Homo sapiens: one gene and its partners. The protein of the gene in region 2 purifies or fractionates together with the protein of the main gene of each other region. This does not show direct contact. Each region holds a gene or a part of one and is shown on either strand. Other genes may lie near its edges.

Evidence for each region. Proteins that work in one complex are often made in the same cells at the same time.
Region 1: the proteins of BTNL8 (region 2) and TCTN2 purify together in Homo sapiens (affinity purification with mass spectrometry; 3 studies listed by BioGRID and IntAct, with this or other methods). This does not show direct contact.
Region 3: the proteins of BTNL8 (region 2) and ITGA7 purify together in Homo sapiens (affinity purification with mass spectrometry; 3 studies listed by BioGRID and IntAct, with this or other methods). This does not show direct contact.
Region 4: the proteins of BTNL8 (region 2) and DNAJC16 purify together in Homo sapiens (affinity purification with mass spectrometry; 3 studies listed by BioGRID and IntAct, with this or other methods). This does not show direct contact.

The regions. Positions count from the first base shown.
Region 1 is NC_000012.12:123,677,613-123,681,112, forward strand, and holds part of TCTN2 (tectonic-2 isoform 1 precursor), read left to right. Parts: intron 1-1,576; coding exon 1,577-1,677; intron 1,678-3,500.
Region 2 is NC_000005.10:180,905,659-180,909,158, forward strand, and holds part of BTNL8 (butyrophilin-like protein 8 isoform 2 precursor), read left to right. Parts: intron 1-2,927; coding exon 2,928-3,275; intron 3,276-3,500.
Region 3 is NC_000012.12:55,694,405-55,697,904, forward strand, and holds part of ITGA7 (integrin alpha-7 isoform 2 precursor), read right to left. Parts: intron 3,419-3,500; coding exon 3,291-3,418; intron 3,143-3,290; coding exon 3,047-3,142; intron 2,874-3,046; coding exon 2,812-2,873; intron 2,665-2,811; coding exon 2,495-2,664; intron 2,029-2,494; coding exon 1,879-2,028; intron 1,234-1,878; coding exon 1,118-1,233; intron 567-1,117; coding exon 374-566; intron 292-373; coding exon 211-291; intron 119-210; coding exon 39-118; intron 1-38. UniProt on the Homo sapiens protein: Integrin alpha-7/beta-1 is the primary laminin receptor on skeletal myoblasts and adult myofibers.
Region 4 is NC_000001.11:15,561,348-15,564,847, reverse strand, and holds part of DNAJC16 (dnaJ homolog subfamily C member 16 isoform 1 precursor), read right to left. Parts: intron 2,707-3,500; coding exon 2,523-2,706; intron 920-2,522; coding exon 737-919; intron 566-736; coding exon 489-565; intron 1-488. UniProt on the Homo sapiens protein: Plays an important role in regulating the size of autophagosomes during the formation process.

The sequences.
Region 1 (3,500 bases), on a different chromosome or scaffold from region 2:
TTATAAACAACGGGCCCTGCCAATGTTTACCTTTTTAGCATTTCTCCTGAGCTGCTTTCTCTGGCCTTGTCCCATTCACGCCCGCCACCTTCTCCCCTGCACCACAGTGTTCCCCCTATTCATCCACCCCCTCTGTCTTCCACCTACAGCTCTCCAGTAGCCCCTCTTACCTGTACAAACTCTTTCTTTTTTTTTAAAGTATAGATGGGGTTTCTCCATGTTGGTCAGGCTGGTCTCGAACTCCTGACCTCAGGTGATTCCCCCGCCTTGGCCTCCCAAAGTGCTGGGATTACGGGCCTGAGCCACTGTGCCTGGCTACCTGTACAAACTCTTACGTGTGTTTCAGGCTCAGCGCATTCTCTCTCTCTGCAAGTCTTCCTGACGCCCAGCCTAAGCCACGTGCCCTCCCTGGGTTCCCATGGCAGATCCATTTCAGTGTTTACCCTTTATGGTCACATGATCTCTTTACCTGTCTCCTCCCTCTGAGAGTGCGAGCCCCTCAGGGAAGCTGTTGTGTCTCACTGTATCATCCCTGCATAACCCAGCCCCCCATACTCTCGTGGTCAGACCACATTTGTCCCACCTGCACTGTTGGGTACCACAGCCACGAACCATGTCTGGACACTGGACAGTTGAAAGGGGATGGGTCTTAATTGAGATGTGCTGTAACTGTTAAACAGCCACCAGTTTTTGAGGACTTAATGTGAAACAAAGAATGTGGAATAGCTCATTCATAATTTTTACATTGATTGCCTGTTGCAATGATATTATTTTGGATACGTTGGGTTCAGTAAAATATATTAAGTTAATTTTATCTGTTTCTTTTTTGTAGCCTGGGCTACTTTTTGTATTTTTATTAGAGACAGGGTTTCACTATGTTGGCCAGGCTGGTCTTGAACTCCTGACCTCAGGTGATCCACCCACCCTGGCCTCCCAAAGTGCTGGGTTTACAGGTGTGAGCCACCCCGCCCAGCCTAAAATCAGTACATTATGTATATACTAACTTGTGACTCTTAGTCAATTGATTATCTTCTAGATCAACTATGACTTCTTTGGTTCATTGTAACTGGCGTGTTTTCTTATGTTTGGGTTTTTGTTGGAGTGGTAGATGCAGGCCTCATATACTTCGTGGATTCCTTAATGTCAAATATTTGGTAATAATGATTTACAAAACAAGATAATTCAGCTTGCTTTTTTTTTTTTGACACGGAGTCTCACTGTGTCGCCCAGGTTGGAGTATAGTGGCACGATCTCGGCTCACTGCAAGCTCCGCCTCCCGGGTTCACACCATTCTCCTGTCTCAGCCTTCCAAGTAGCTGGGACTACAGGCGCCTGCCACCACGCCCAGCTAACTTTTTGTATTTTTAATAGAGACCGGGTTTCACCGTGTTAGCCAGAATGGTCTCGATCTCCTGACCTCATGATCCACCTGCCTTGGCCTCCCAAAATGCTGGGATTACAGGCGTGAGCCACCGCGCCTGGCCGATAATTCAGCTTTCTTTTGAATGTCAAAAATGTGACTGTGCTTTGTCGGAATGTTTCTTAGCTGAATTTTTCTGTTGTGTGTACTTTTCAGAGAACGTGACTGTCATTCCTAACCAGGTGTATCAGCCCCTTGGCCCTTGTCCTTGTAATTTAACAGCTGGAGCCTGTGATGTTCGCTGCTGCTGTGACCAGGTATGTTCTTTGGTTATTGGGCACAAAAGTTATGCTACCTGTGAGAACACCAGCAGTTCCACCAACAGCTTTTTTCATTTTTTATTTCTTGAGATAGGGTCTTGCTCTGTCACCCAGGCTGGAGTATGGTGATGCAATGATGGCTCACTGCAGCCTCGACCTCCCGGGCTCAAGTGATTCTCTTACCTCAGCCTCCTGAGTAGCTGGGACCACAGGCATGAACCATCACACCCAGCTAATTGTTTTGTATCTTTTGTAGAGATGGGATTTTGCCATGTTGCTCAGGCTGGTCTCAAATTCCTGGGATCAAACAGTCCTCCTACCTTGGCCTCCCAAAATGTTGGGATTACAGGTGTGAGCCACCATGCCTTGCCCCAACAGCTTTTTAAGGGATGGTCTTCCAAAACTGAGATTATGTTTTCTATTGCAAATTGTTTTCAAATTGAGTTTTTTTTTTTTTTTTTTTTTGAGATGGAGTCTCGCTCTGTCGCCCAGCCTGGAGTGCAGTGGCGTGATCTTGGCTCACTGCAAGCTCCGCCTCCCGGGTTCATGCCATTCTCCTGCCTCAGCCTCCTGAGTAGCTGGGACTACAGGCGCCCACCACCACGCCCAGCTAATTTTTTGTATTTTTAGTAGAGACGGGGTTTCACCGTGTTAGCCAGGATGGTCTTGATCTCCTGACCTCGTGATCCGCCCGCCTCGGCCTCCCAAAGTGCGGGGATTACAGGCGTGAGCCACCGCGCCCAGCCCAAATTGAGTATTTTTTTAAATTTAAAAATTTTGGTGGGCGCAGTGGCGCATACCTGTAATCCCAGCACTTTGGGTGGCCAAGGTGGGCGGATCACCTGAGGTCCGGAGTTTGAGACCAGCCTGACCAACATGGAGAAACCCCATCTCTACTAAAAATACAAAATTAGCCAGGCGTGTTGGTGGGCGCCTGTAATCCCAGCTACTCTGGAGGCTGAGGCAGGAGAATCGCTTGAACTAGGGAGGCAGAGGTTGCAGTGAGCCAGAATTGTGCCACTGCACTCCAGCCTGGGCAACAAGAGCGAAACTCCGTTTCAAAAAAAAAAAAAAAATCACACAACTTTTGAGTAAATTTTTTTTTTTTGAGACGGCCTCCTAAAGTGCTGGAATTACAGGTGTAAGCCACCATGCCCGGCCTGACTTTTTTTCTTTTAGGCTTAGAGCAATACAACATATAAACTCTATTTTCTTTCTTTTTTCTTTCTTTTTTTTTTTTTTGAGACAGAGTCTCGCTTTGTTGCCCAGGCTGGAGTGCAGTGACACGATCTCGGGTCACTGCAACCTCCACCTCCTGGATTCAAGTGATTCTTGTGCCTCAGCCTCCCGAGTAACTGGAACTACAGGTGTGCGCCACCACACCTGGCTAATTTTTGTATTTTTAGTAGAGGCGGGGTTTCACCATGTTGGCCAGGCTGGTCTTAAACTCCTGACCTCAGGTGATCTGCCTACCTCGGCCTCCCAAAGTGCTGGGATTACAGGAGTGAGCCACTGCACTGGGCCTAAATTCAGTATTTTCTTATCTGGCATAGTCAGTCTAGTTTTTGGAAGAAGGAAAGAATATCTCTTTGGATAAAATCATGATTGTGAAGATCATACTGGGGGGATGGTTTTAATAATATTTATTCAGAAACCTTTAAGAAATATAAAAAAAGAAAGAATAAGAAAGAACAGGCCTGGCGAAGCAGCTCACGCCTGTAATCCCAGCACTTTGGGAGGCCGATGTGGGTGGATCACTTGAGTTCAGGAGTTGGATACCAGCCTGGGCAACATGGCAAAACCCCATCTCTACAAAAATT
Region 2 (3,500 bases):
CATTTAGTGCTATAAATTTCCCTCTACACACTGCTTTGAATGTGTCCCAGAGATTCTGGTATGTTGTGTCTTTGTTCTCGTTGGTTTCAAAGAACATCTTTATTTCTGCCTTCATTTCGTTATGTACCCAGTAGTCATTCAGGAGCAGGTTGTTCAGTTTCCATGTAGTTGAGCGGCTTTGAGATTCTTAATCCTGAGTTCTAGTTTGATTGCACTGTGGTCTGAGAGATAGTTTGTTATAATTTCTGTTCTTTTACATTTGCTGAGGAGAGCTTTACTTCCAGTATGTGGTCAATTTTGTAACAGGTGTGGTGTGGTGCTGAAAAAAATGTATATTCTGTTGATTTGCGGTGGAGAGTTCTGTAGATGTCTATTAGGTCCGCTTGGTGCAGAGCTGAGTTCAATTCCTGGGTATCCTTTTTGACTTTCTGTCTCGTTGATCTATCTAATGTTGACAGTGGGGTGTTAAAGTCTCCCATTATTAATGTGTGGGAGTCTAAGTCTCTTTGTAGGTCACTCAGGACTTGCTTTACGAATCTTGGTGCTCCTGTATTGGGTGCATATATATTTAGGAGAGTTAGCTCTTCTTGTTGAATTGATCCCTTTACCATTATGTAATGGCCTTCTTTGTCTCTTTTGATCTTTGTTGGTTTAAAGTCTGTTTTATCAGAGACTAGGATTGCAACCCCTGCCTTTTTTTGTTTTCCATTGGCTTGGTAGATCTTCCTCCATCCTTTTATTTTGAGCCTATGTGTGCCTCTGCACGTGAGATGGGTTTCCTGAATACAGCACACTGATGGGTCTTGACTCTTTATCCAATTTGCCAGTCTGTGTCTTTTAATTGGAGCATTTAGTCCATTTACATTTAACGTTAATATTGTTATGTGTGAATTTGATCCTGTCATTATGATGTTAGCTGGTTATTTTGCTCGTTAGTTGATGCAGTTTCTTCCTACTCTCGATGGTCTTTACATTTTGGCATGATTTTGCAGTGGCTGGTACCGGTTGTTCCTTTCCATGTTTAGTGCTTCCTTCAGGAGCTCTTGTAAGGCAGGCCTGGTGGTGACAAAATCTCTCAGCATTTGCTTGTCTGTAAAGTATTTTATTTCTCCTTCACTTATGAAGCTTAGTTTGGCTGGATATGAAGTTCTGGGTTGAAAATTCTTTTCTTTAAGAATGTTGAATATTGGCCCCCACTCTCTTCTGGCTTGTAGGGTTTCTGCCGAGAGATCCGCTGTTAGTCTGATGGGCTTCCCTTTGAGGGTAACCCGACCTTTCTCTCTGGCTGCCCTTAACATTTTTTCCTTCATTTCAACTTTGGTGAATCTGACAATTATGTGTCTTGGAGTTGCTCTTCTCGAGGAGTATCTTTGTGGCGTTCTCTGTATTTCCTGAATCTGAACGTTGTCCTGCCTTGCTAGATTGGGGAAGTTCTCCTGGATAATATACTGCAGAGTGTTTTCCAACTTGGTTCCATTCTCCCCATCACTTTCAGGTACACCAATCAGACGTAGATTTGGTCTTTTCACATAGTCCCATATTTCTTGGAGGCTTTGCTCATTTCTTTTTATTCTTTTTTTTCTAGACTTCCCTTCTTGCTTCATTTCATTCATTTCATCTTCCATCGCTGATACCCTTTCTTCCAGTTGATCGCATCGGCTCCTGAGGCTTCTGCATTCTTCACGTAGTTCTTGAGCCTTGGTTTTCAGCTCCATCAGCTCCTTTAAGCACTTCTCTGTATTGGTTATTCTAGTTATACATTCTTCTAATTTTTTTTCAAAGTTTTCAACTTCTTTGCCTTTGGTTTGAATGTCCTCCCGTAGCTCAGAGTAATTTGATCATCTGAAGCCTTCTTCTCTCAGCTCGTCAAAGTCATTCTCCATCCAGCTTTGTTCCGTTGCTGGTGAGGAACTGCGTTCCTTTGGAGGAGGAGAGGCGCTCTGCTTTTTAGAGTTTCCAGTTTTTCTGTTCTGTTTTTTCCCCATCTTTGTGGTTTTGTCTACTTTTGGTCTTTGATGATGGTGATGTACAGATGGGTTTTTGGTGTGGATGTCCTTTCTGTTTGTTTTCCTTCTAACAGAGAGGACCCTCAGCTGCAGGTCTGTTGGAGTACCCTGCCGTGTGAGGTGTCAGTGTGCCCCTGCTGGGGGGTGCCTCCCAGTTAGGCTGCTCGGGGGTCAGGGGTCAGGGACTCACTTGAGGAGGCAGTCTGCCAGTTCTCAGATCTCCAGCTGCGTGCTGGGAGAACCACTGCTCTCTTCAAAGCTGTCAGACAGGGACATTTAAGTCTGCAGAGGTTACTGCTGTCTTTTTGTGTGTCTGTGCCCTGCCCCCAGAGGTGGAGCCTACAGAGGCAGGCAGGCCTCCTTGAGCTGTGGTGGGCTCCACCCAGTTGGAGCTGCTTTGTTTACCTAATCAAGCCTGGGCAATGGCGGGCGCCCCTCCCCCAGCCTCGCTGCTGCCTTGCAGTTTGATCTCAGACTGCTGTGCTAGCAATCAGCGAGACTCTGTGGTCATAGGACCCTCTGAGCCAGGTGTGGGATATAATCTCGTGGTGCGCCGTTTCTTAAGCCCATCGGAAAAGCGCAATATTCGGGTGGGAGTGACCCGATTTTCCAGGTGCGTCCGTCACCCCTTTCTTTGACTCGGAAAGGGAACTCCCTGACCCCTTGCGCTTCCCGAGTGAGGCAATGCCTCGCCCTGCTTCGGCTCGTGCACGGTGCGCGCACCCACTGACCTGCGCCCACTGTCTGGCACTCCCTAGTGAGATGAACCCGGTACCTCAGATGGAAATGCAGAAATCACCCATGTTCTGCGTCGCTCACTCTGGGAGCTGTAGACCGGAGCTGTTCCTATTCGGCCATCTTGGCTCCTCCCCCTCACTACAAAGGGTTTTGATGATTTATCTTTTGTATGTCTTCCCACAGGGCAGTGGCAGGTGTTTGGGCCAGACAAGCCTGTCCAGGCCTTGGTGGGGGAGGACGCAGCATTCTCCTGTTTCCTGTCTCCTAAGACCAATGCAGAGGCCATGGAAGTGCGGTTCTTCAGGGGCCAGTTCTCTAGCGTGGTCCACCTCTACAGGGACGGGAAGGACCAGCCATTTATGCAGATGCCACAGTATCAAGGCAGGACAAAACTGGTGAAGGATTCTATTGCGGAGGGGCGCATCTCTCTGAGGCTGGAAAACATTACTGTGTTGGATGCTGGCCTCTATGGGTGCAGGATTAGTTCCCAGTCTTACTACCAGAAGGCCATCTGGGAGCTACAGGTGTCAGGTCAGTTTCATATTTCATAACTTAGTTGTCCCAAAGAACCATCCTGGACTTTATAAGTGTTTTTTTCAATAAGGAAATTTTAAAATTTTAGGTCATTTAGTTAGAAGGCAGCATTCTATACTCTACGTTCCTTCTGTCTTGTGTGTATAGTTCTATGTGTTTTGTCACATGTTTAAATTCAGGTAACCACCATCACATCAAGGTATAGAACTACCCCATCATCAC
Region 3 (3,500 bases), on a different chromosome or scaffold from region 2:
CTACCCCCACCTCACCCTTCCGGCCCCGCCTGGCTTACGTGGCCAACAGCAGCTCTACCTCCAGTTCCGTGGTCTCAATGCTGATCCCGGAGGTGCTAAGGATGAGGTAGAAGGTGACCTAGGCCAAGGGTGGAAAGAGATTAGAGTCAGGGGTGGTCTACGGGCTTATGGAGAGGCTACTCACGTAGGGATAAGGGCAGATGTGCCAACCTGGGCACCTCTCTTCATGGGGTTCCCCAGCTCACACTCAACATGGGAGGCATTCTCATTGGACAGGCAGAGTGGCTTCTCCTGGAATGGGAGAGAAGGCAAGGTCAGTCTGGGTTACTGGAGCCCCTCAAGACCCCACCCCATCCTGCCCCCAGGTCCTCACCGCAGGGTCCAGGGCCCGGACCCCTGAGTAGTGCAGTGAGTCAGGAAGCATGACCAGGAGCTGGGCTTCATGGGCATCATCCCCATCAGCCTGGGGCTGGGCTGGGTCCGATGGCAGGTTGGTGACCATCAGCTCCAGGCCAATGACTGGCTGCCCACTCAGTGCAAACAGGGCTGTTGTTCCATCCACATCCCTGGAGAGTCAGACCCCACTCCTGCTAAGTTCTGAACACCTCCCCCTACCATTCCCCCGCCCAGTCTGCTCCCCCAGTACCTGCCTTCACTCCCTGAGCCTCTCTTCCCACCCCAGGTCCCCATCACACCCGTCCAAGCCTCAGGCCTCTGTACACACGACTGGGAGTCAGGGGACCTCCGTTCTCATCTCAGCTCCACCATTACTTACCTTGGCCAAGTAACTTAACCTCTCTAGGCTTCAGTTCTCCATCTATAAAATGAGACTAATATAATTCCTACCTCACAGAGGTTTGAAGACTAACCAATGAGATGTATGTAGACTGCATATTATTAGTGTACTGTGAAGGATTGCTATTCCTTGCCATGGGAGCCCCCGTGGCCCCATCACTGACCCTCATCTCAGTCTCCAAGTCCATCGGCAGGTCCTCTTCCACCTTCTGCCTTTTCTGCAGGCTCAGCCCTTCCCTCTGACTGGTCCTCCTGAGAGGGCTTTCTCTCAATCCTTGAACTCTTGCCCTCCCACCCCCACCCTGCTCTCTGCCCCCCTCACATGGGCAGAGGTTGGAATTCCGTGTCGCTGACCCGGGTACAGAAGCGGGCGCGGACCAGCTGCAGATTGCTCTGGCAGATCTTGTCTTCACCACAGCCTTGCTTCAGGAAGTGGATCTGGGGAGAGACATGAGATAAGGGGCATTCCTAGGGGGCAAGGCAGGGGGCAAACCTGTCACCATGGCATATGGTGGGTTAGAGTATCACAGGATTAAACAACCTGTCCTCAACTCTCAGATCTGCTGCTTATTAGCCATGTGATCCTGAACTGGGTCCTCTCCTCTGGGTCCTCTCATCATGGTAGTGATGGGAGCACTACCATGCCATGGTAGAGACTAGCAGCAAGTCAAGAGCTGGGCCACACTGCCCCAGCTCACATGCATGTAACTGAGTTCCGGATTTAGAACGGGAAAAGATGTCAAGGGCACCACTTCTGGGCCAGCCATAAAAACCATGCAAGCAAGGGGCCTCATGTTCTCCCTTCCAGCTGAATGGGATGAATGTGACTTCAAGAGCTTGAAGGCCGCATTTGAAGATTACAGAATCCCATCAACCTGAGCCCCCTGAATGACTACATGGAGTAGAGGAGCTCTGTCCCCTTGACTAGGAACATGGTCATTTAGGCACCTAGAGATATGAGGAATTACTGGAGTAGCATACGTGAAAGGGCTCTGTGAGCTGTGAATTGGTGTCACTGGGGAGGGACCATGATCTTTGCCCTCCCAGCTCCTCCCCCTGGGCTAAACCAGAACCCATGCTCACCTCTGCCCGCTGGGTGCTGGGCTGGTGGGCATTGAGGATGGGGGCCACTGGAGGCAGCCCCTGGCCAGGAGCCTGTCGCCGGAGCCGAGGGGTCTGGAGACTGTAGGACAAGGTCACTACAATGGCCCGAAGCTTGTCTTTGACATTTTCCTAGGAAGAGGAAGGTCTATTCCTCACTGGAACAATCCCCAGGCCTCAGCCCTGCTCAGTGCCCCAGCCAGACCTAGGACCAATTCTAAAACTTGGAAAGAATATTAGGGAGATGAATGAGAGAGGTGGAGAACTGAGCAAGGAGGAGGGAGAAAGACTGGGGTAGGGGACAGGGGAAACCTTTAGGGCTTTGAGGACCAGATGTGATGATAAAAGCTGCCACCTCCTCCATTCAGCTGGAAGAGGGGACATGAAGCCCCTTGCACCTCCTCCTCCTCCAGGGAGTGCAGAAATGACAGGAGAGGGCAGCAGATGAGGAGGAAGTGAGCTCAGAAGACAGGTTTCCCACGTGTCTAGGTCTTAGAAGGAGGCACGAGTGTGCTCGGGAAAAAGCAGCTAAGAGGAATCAGGGAAAAGAGATGGAGCCATGAAAATGACCCTCAGAAGCCAAGGGGTCAGTGTCCACCTGGAGCTGGAACATGGCGTCTCCACAGACTCGGTCATGCTGGTGCTTCAGCCACACGGTGCCCGAGGCCTGGTGCTTGGGTTCTTCCAGGTTACGGCTCAGGAACGTCACACGGGGAACCTGGCCCCGGAGCCTCCGGTCTGTGTCCGCATCTAACACATAGTCCAGGGCTGTGGCATGTTGGGAAAGGAGGAGCTGCTGAGCTGCAGAGCTGCTCCAGCTCACCCCATTCCAAGGGTGCTCTTCTACCACCTCGAAGTGACCCCCCTCCCTGGGAAACCCAAAAGGGCGAGCCACAGAGGGGGGACCGCACTCACCCACAGTAGGGCTATAGCTGCTGGGGACTGCAATGTAGCTGAAACAGACCCTTAGGTCCACACTGCGGGGGCAAAGGTGGCTCCTGAGCCAAACGAGGCTGATGGGCCAAGGCCCCTACCCCCACCCCATCTGTCACATCCTGTCACAGCCCCAGCCCCAAACTGGGGAGATAAAGGATCAAAGGGAGGGCAGGGGAAGCTGCCAGGGTCCAGGTGCCACCCGATCCCACCTCACCAGACCGAGTGGCCGCCAGCACAGTTGGGCTGCTCCAGGTCGATGCTTCGTGGAGCAATAGAGACCTCATGGGAGACATGGAGGATGGGTCTGGCCCTGGGATTGGGGAGTCAAGAGCACAAGAAACATGAGAACATGAGGCTGGGAAACACTCTTCAGCATTAGATTTGGCACTGAGGTCGGGGTCAGAGTCACAGGGAGGGGCTGACGGCCTCAGGGAGGGAAAAGGTTGAGAGGGGCTCACCTGAAGAGCACTGCGGTGTCAGCCAGGGAGCCCACCAGCAGGTCAGGGTATTGGTTCCCATCCATATCCAAGCTGCCTGACAGGGAGTAGCCGAAGCTCTTGATGCCCACAGCCTCGCCCTCCAGCACCTAGAGAACCAGCTGTCAGCCTCCCTCAATCCCACCTCCCGCAGGCCTCTGCCTCCCCTGATGCCTCTGCTGATTCCACCCA
Region 4 (3,500 bases), on a different chromosome or scaffold from region 2:
AAAATAAAAAATAAAAAATGTCCGGGAGCAGTGGTTCACACCTGTAAGCCCAGCACTTTGGGAGGCCGAGGCGGGTGGATCACCTGAGGTCAGGAGTTTGAGACCAGCCTGACCAACATGGTGAAACCCTATCTCTACTAAAAATACAAAAATTAGCCAGGCATGGTGACAGGTGCCTGTAATCCCAGCTACTCAGGAGGCTGAGGCAGGAGAATTGCTTGAACCTGGGAGGCGGAGGTTGCAGTGATCCCCAGATTGAGCCTGGGGGACAAGAGCAAGACTTTGTCTCAAAAAAAAAAAAAGTAAAAAATAAAAAAAAGGGAAGTTACTGAAAGAAAGAAAAAGGGGAATAGAAAATGTGTAAACGTTCTTCCACTTGCCCCATCAAGTGTACCTTGAAATTTAATAATGATGAACTCTTTTCAAAAGAAAAACAGTGATATCAGTATTAACAGAGAAAAAGAAATTCAGCCTGGCAATATCCCTACCAGTTGTTGTGAAAAATGCTATCCCAGCAGTCTGAGATGTAGTCAGAAGCAGAGTAGAACCATCGAAGGAGAAAAACCTATGTAGAGAGAAAATGGATGATGGTCAGGACTAAAGCCGGAAGGGAGAGTCCCTCTACCCTGCAACACAGTGCTGCTGCTGGACCTCTGCTCTGAGCAGAAATCCGCCACCAGCACTGTGTACTCACAAGCCCTCCTGGTGTCCCACCCTTCCCAGCCCCGATGCTCACAGGGGCAAGTTCATCGGTCAGGTCAGGAAGCACTGCTTCAGAGGACAGAAGAGCTGGATCTTTACGCAGCTGGTCGAGATAGCCCAAGAGGATAAATTTGTCACTCTCACTCCCAATCCAAGGGTCTTCCAGGGTTTTATACACCACCCTTCCTGCTGTGTTGCGCCTTTCTAAAATAGACACCTGGAAGAAAAGTAGAGAAAAAACATCAGAAGTTTCAAAAGCATGGTTAAGTTACAGTTGTTTGCTTTTTTTTTTTTTTTTGACGGAGTCTTGCTTTGTCGCCCAGGCTGGAGTGCAGTGGCGTGATCTTGGCTCACTGCAAGCTCCGCCTCCCGGGTTCACGCCATTCTCCTGGCTCAGCCTTCCCAAGTGGCTGGGACTAGAGGCACCTGCCACCATGCCTGGCTAATTTTTGGTATTTTTTTTTTTTTTTTTTTTTTTTTTTAGTAGAGATGGGGTTTCACCATGCTAGCCAGGATGGTCTCGATCTCCTGACCTCGTGATCTGCCTGCCTTGGCCTCCCAAAGTGCTGGGATTACAGCTGTGAGCCACCACACTTGGCCCAGTTGTTTGTTTTTTGAGACAGAGTTTCGCCCTTGTCTCCCAGGCTGGAGTGCAATGGTGCGATCTTGGCTCACTGCAACCTCTGCCTCCCAGGTTCAAGCAATTCTCGTGCCTCAGCCTGCTGAGTAGTTGGGACTACAGACAGGTGTGCACCACACCAGCTAATTTTTGTATTTTTAGTAGAGATGAGGTTTCACCATGTTGATTAGGCTGGTCTCAAACTCCTAGCCTCAAGTGATCCACCCGCCTCGGCCTCCCAAAGTGCTGGGATTATAGGTGTGAGCCACCGCGTTCGGCCTAAGAAATAACTTTTATGGTGACTTTCCTAAGCTTTTGTTAAAAGTTAAAGCTCTTTTTTCTCAATAGACTTTGCTCTATAACCTTGACTTAATATTAATGGAAACCTTTGTTTTTTAGAGAGATTTTCCATGATTGCGAAAATGATGAAAAGTCAGAGGAGAATTTCTTGTTTCTGTAGGAAGTGATGACAATGCAGGAGAAAGGCAGGAGAGATCAACCAGGATGAAGTTAAAGAGGCAGAGGGGGGCAGAAATTTCCAGAGCACATTACCAGTGGCCTAAGGATTTGTAAAATCTAGGATCTAGGATGCTGCAAGACCAGACTTGCCTTAGTAAAAAACTGGTGAAAAGCACTGATGACCTTTACCGTTCACTGATAGAAAACATGGTTTCTGTGGGGGCCTGAGGCTGACATCCAGAATGTAAAAAGACCAGGTCAAAAACTGTTTTAAGAGTAGGCTTTAGGCCAGGAGCAGTGGCTCATGCCTGTAATCCCAGCACTTTGGGAGGCGGGAGGATTGCCTGAGCTCGGGAGTTTGAGACCAACCTGGGCAACATGTCGAAACCCTATCTCTACAAAAAAATACAAAAAATTAGCCAGGCGTGGTTGTGTGTGCCTGTGGTCCCAGCTATGTGGGAGGCTGAGGTGGGAGGATCACTTGAGCCTGGGAGGTCGAGGCTGTAATGAGCTGAGATCATGTCACTGCACTCCCAGCCTGGGAGACAGAGTGAGACCCTGTCTCAAAAGAAAAAAAAAAAAATCAAGAAAAAGGAAAAACAAAAGAGTAGACTTTGAAAATAGGCTTCAGAGTTTCAGATTTCCTAGAATCTGTATTCAACACTCTCAAGGAAGAAGGAAACAGAATCAAGTGCCACATGGTTATGAAGAGCCTGGGATGAGGAGAGACTCTGTGGCTTACCGCTGATTTCCCTTGAAACGCCTCACTGTCTGGTAGTAAGGTGTCGGCAAACTCCTGCTGCCGATTGCTGTAGACATGCACAAATCTCACTGTGTCTTGAGTGTTTGCCAGGGCAAAGGACAGGAAAGCCTCAAAGGGTTTGCTCAACTTGGTAGTCTCAGCAGTCAATAAAACCACACAGTACCTGCACAACAAAAAGACAAAACTTTATAACCAATCCCTGATGGCAGGGCCAGCACCTATAATGGCAAGTGAAGGTGAAGAAGACGAGGAGCTCATCTTATGGAAGTGAATACACTGTGCCCAGTGAAAGCTGACATTTCAACTAAGGGAGGATTTCCAAGTCATTAACAAACTGTTTCTCTTCCCAATCTGTGATGTTTTTCCCAAACCAAACTTCTTTACCACATTTACGAATTTTAAAATTTTATATATATGAAATTTTATATATATGAAAACTATATATATATAGTTTTGTTTATATTGCCCAGGCTGGTCTTGAACTCCTGGCCTCAGACAATCCTCCTACCTCAGGCTCCCAAAGTGTTGGGATTACTGGCATGAGCCATCGTGCCTGCCAGGAATTTAAGGGGTTGGTCACTGAATCTCTGATGCAGCAGGGCCTTTCATTTTATTTTTTGAGATGGAGTCTTGCTCTGTCGCCCAGGCTGGAGAGTGTAGTGGTGTGATCTCGGCTCACTGTAACTCCGCCTCCTGAGTTCAAACCATTCTCCTGCCTCAGCCTCCCAAGTAGCTGGGATTATAGGCGTGCACCACCTCACCCAACTAGTTTTTGTATTTTTAGTAGAGACGGGTTTTCACTATGTTGGCCAGGCTGGTCTCAAACTCCTGACCTCAAGTGATCCGCCTGCCTCAGCCCCCCAAAGTGCTGGGATTATAGGCGTGAGCCACTGTTCCTGGCCGGCAGGGCCTTTTAGAAACTATTTGTCCTAGTTCTTCCAGTATAGGGAGGGCTGG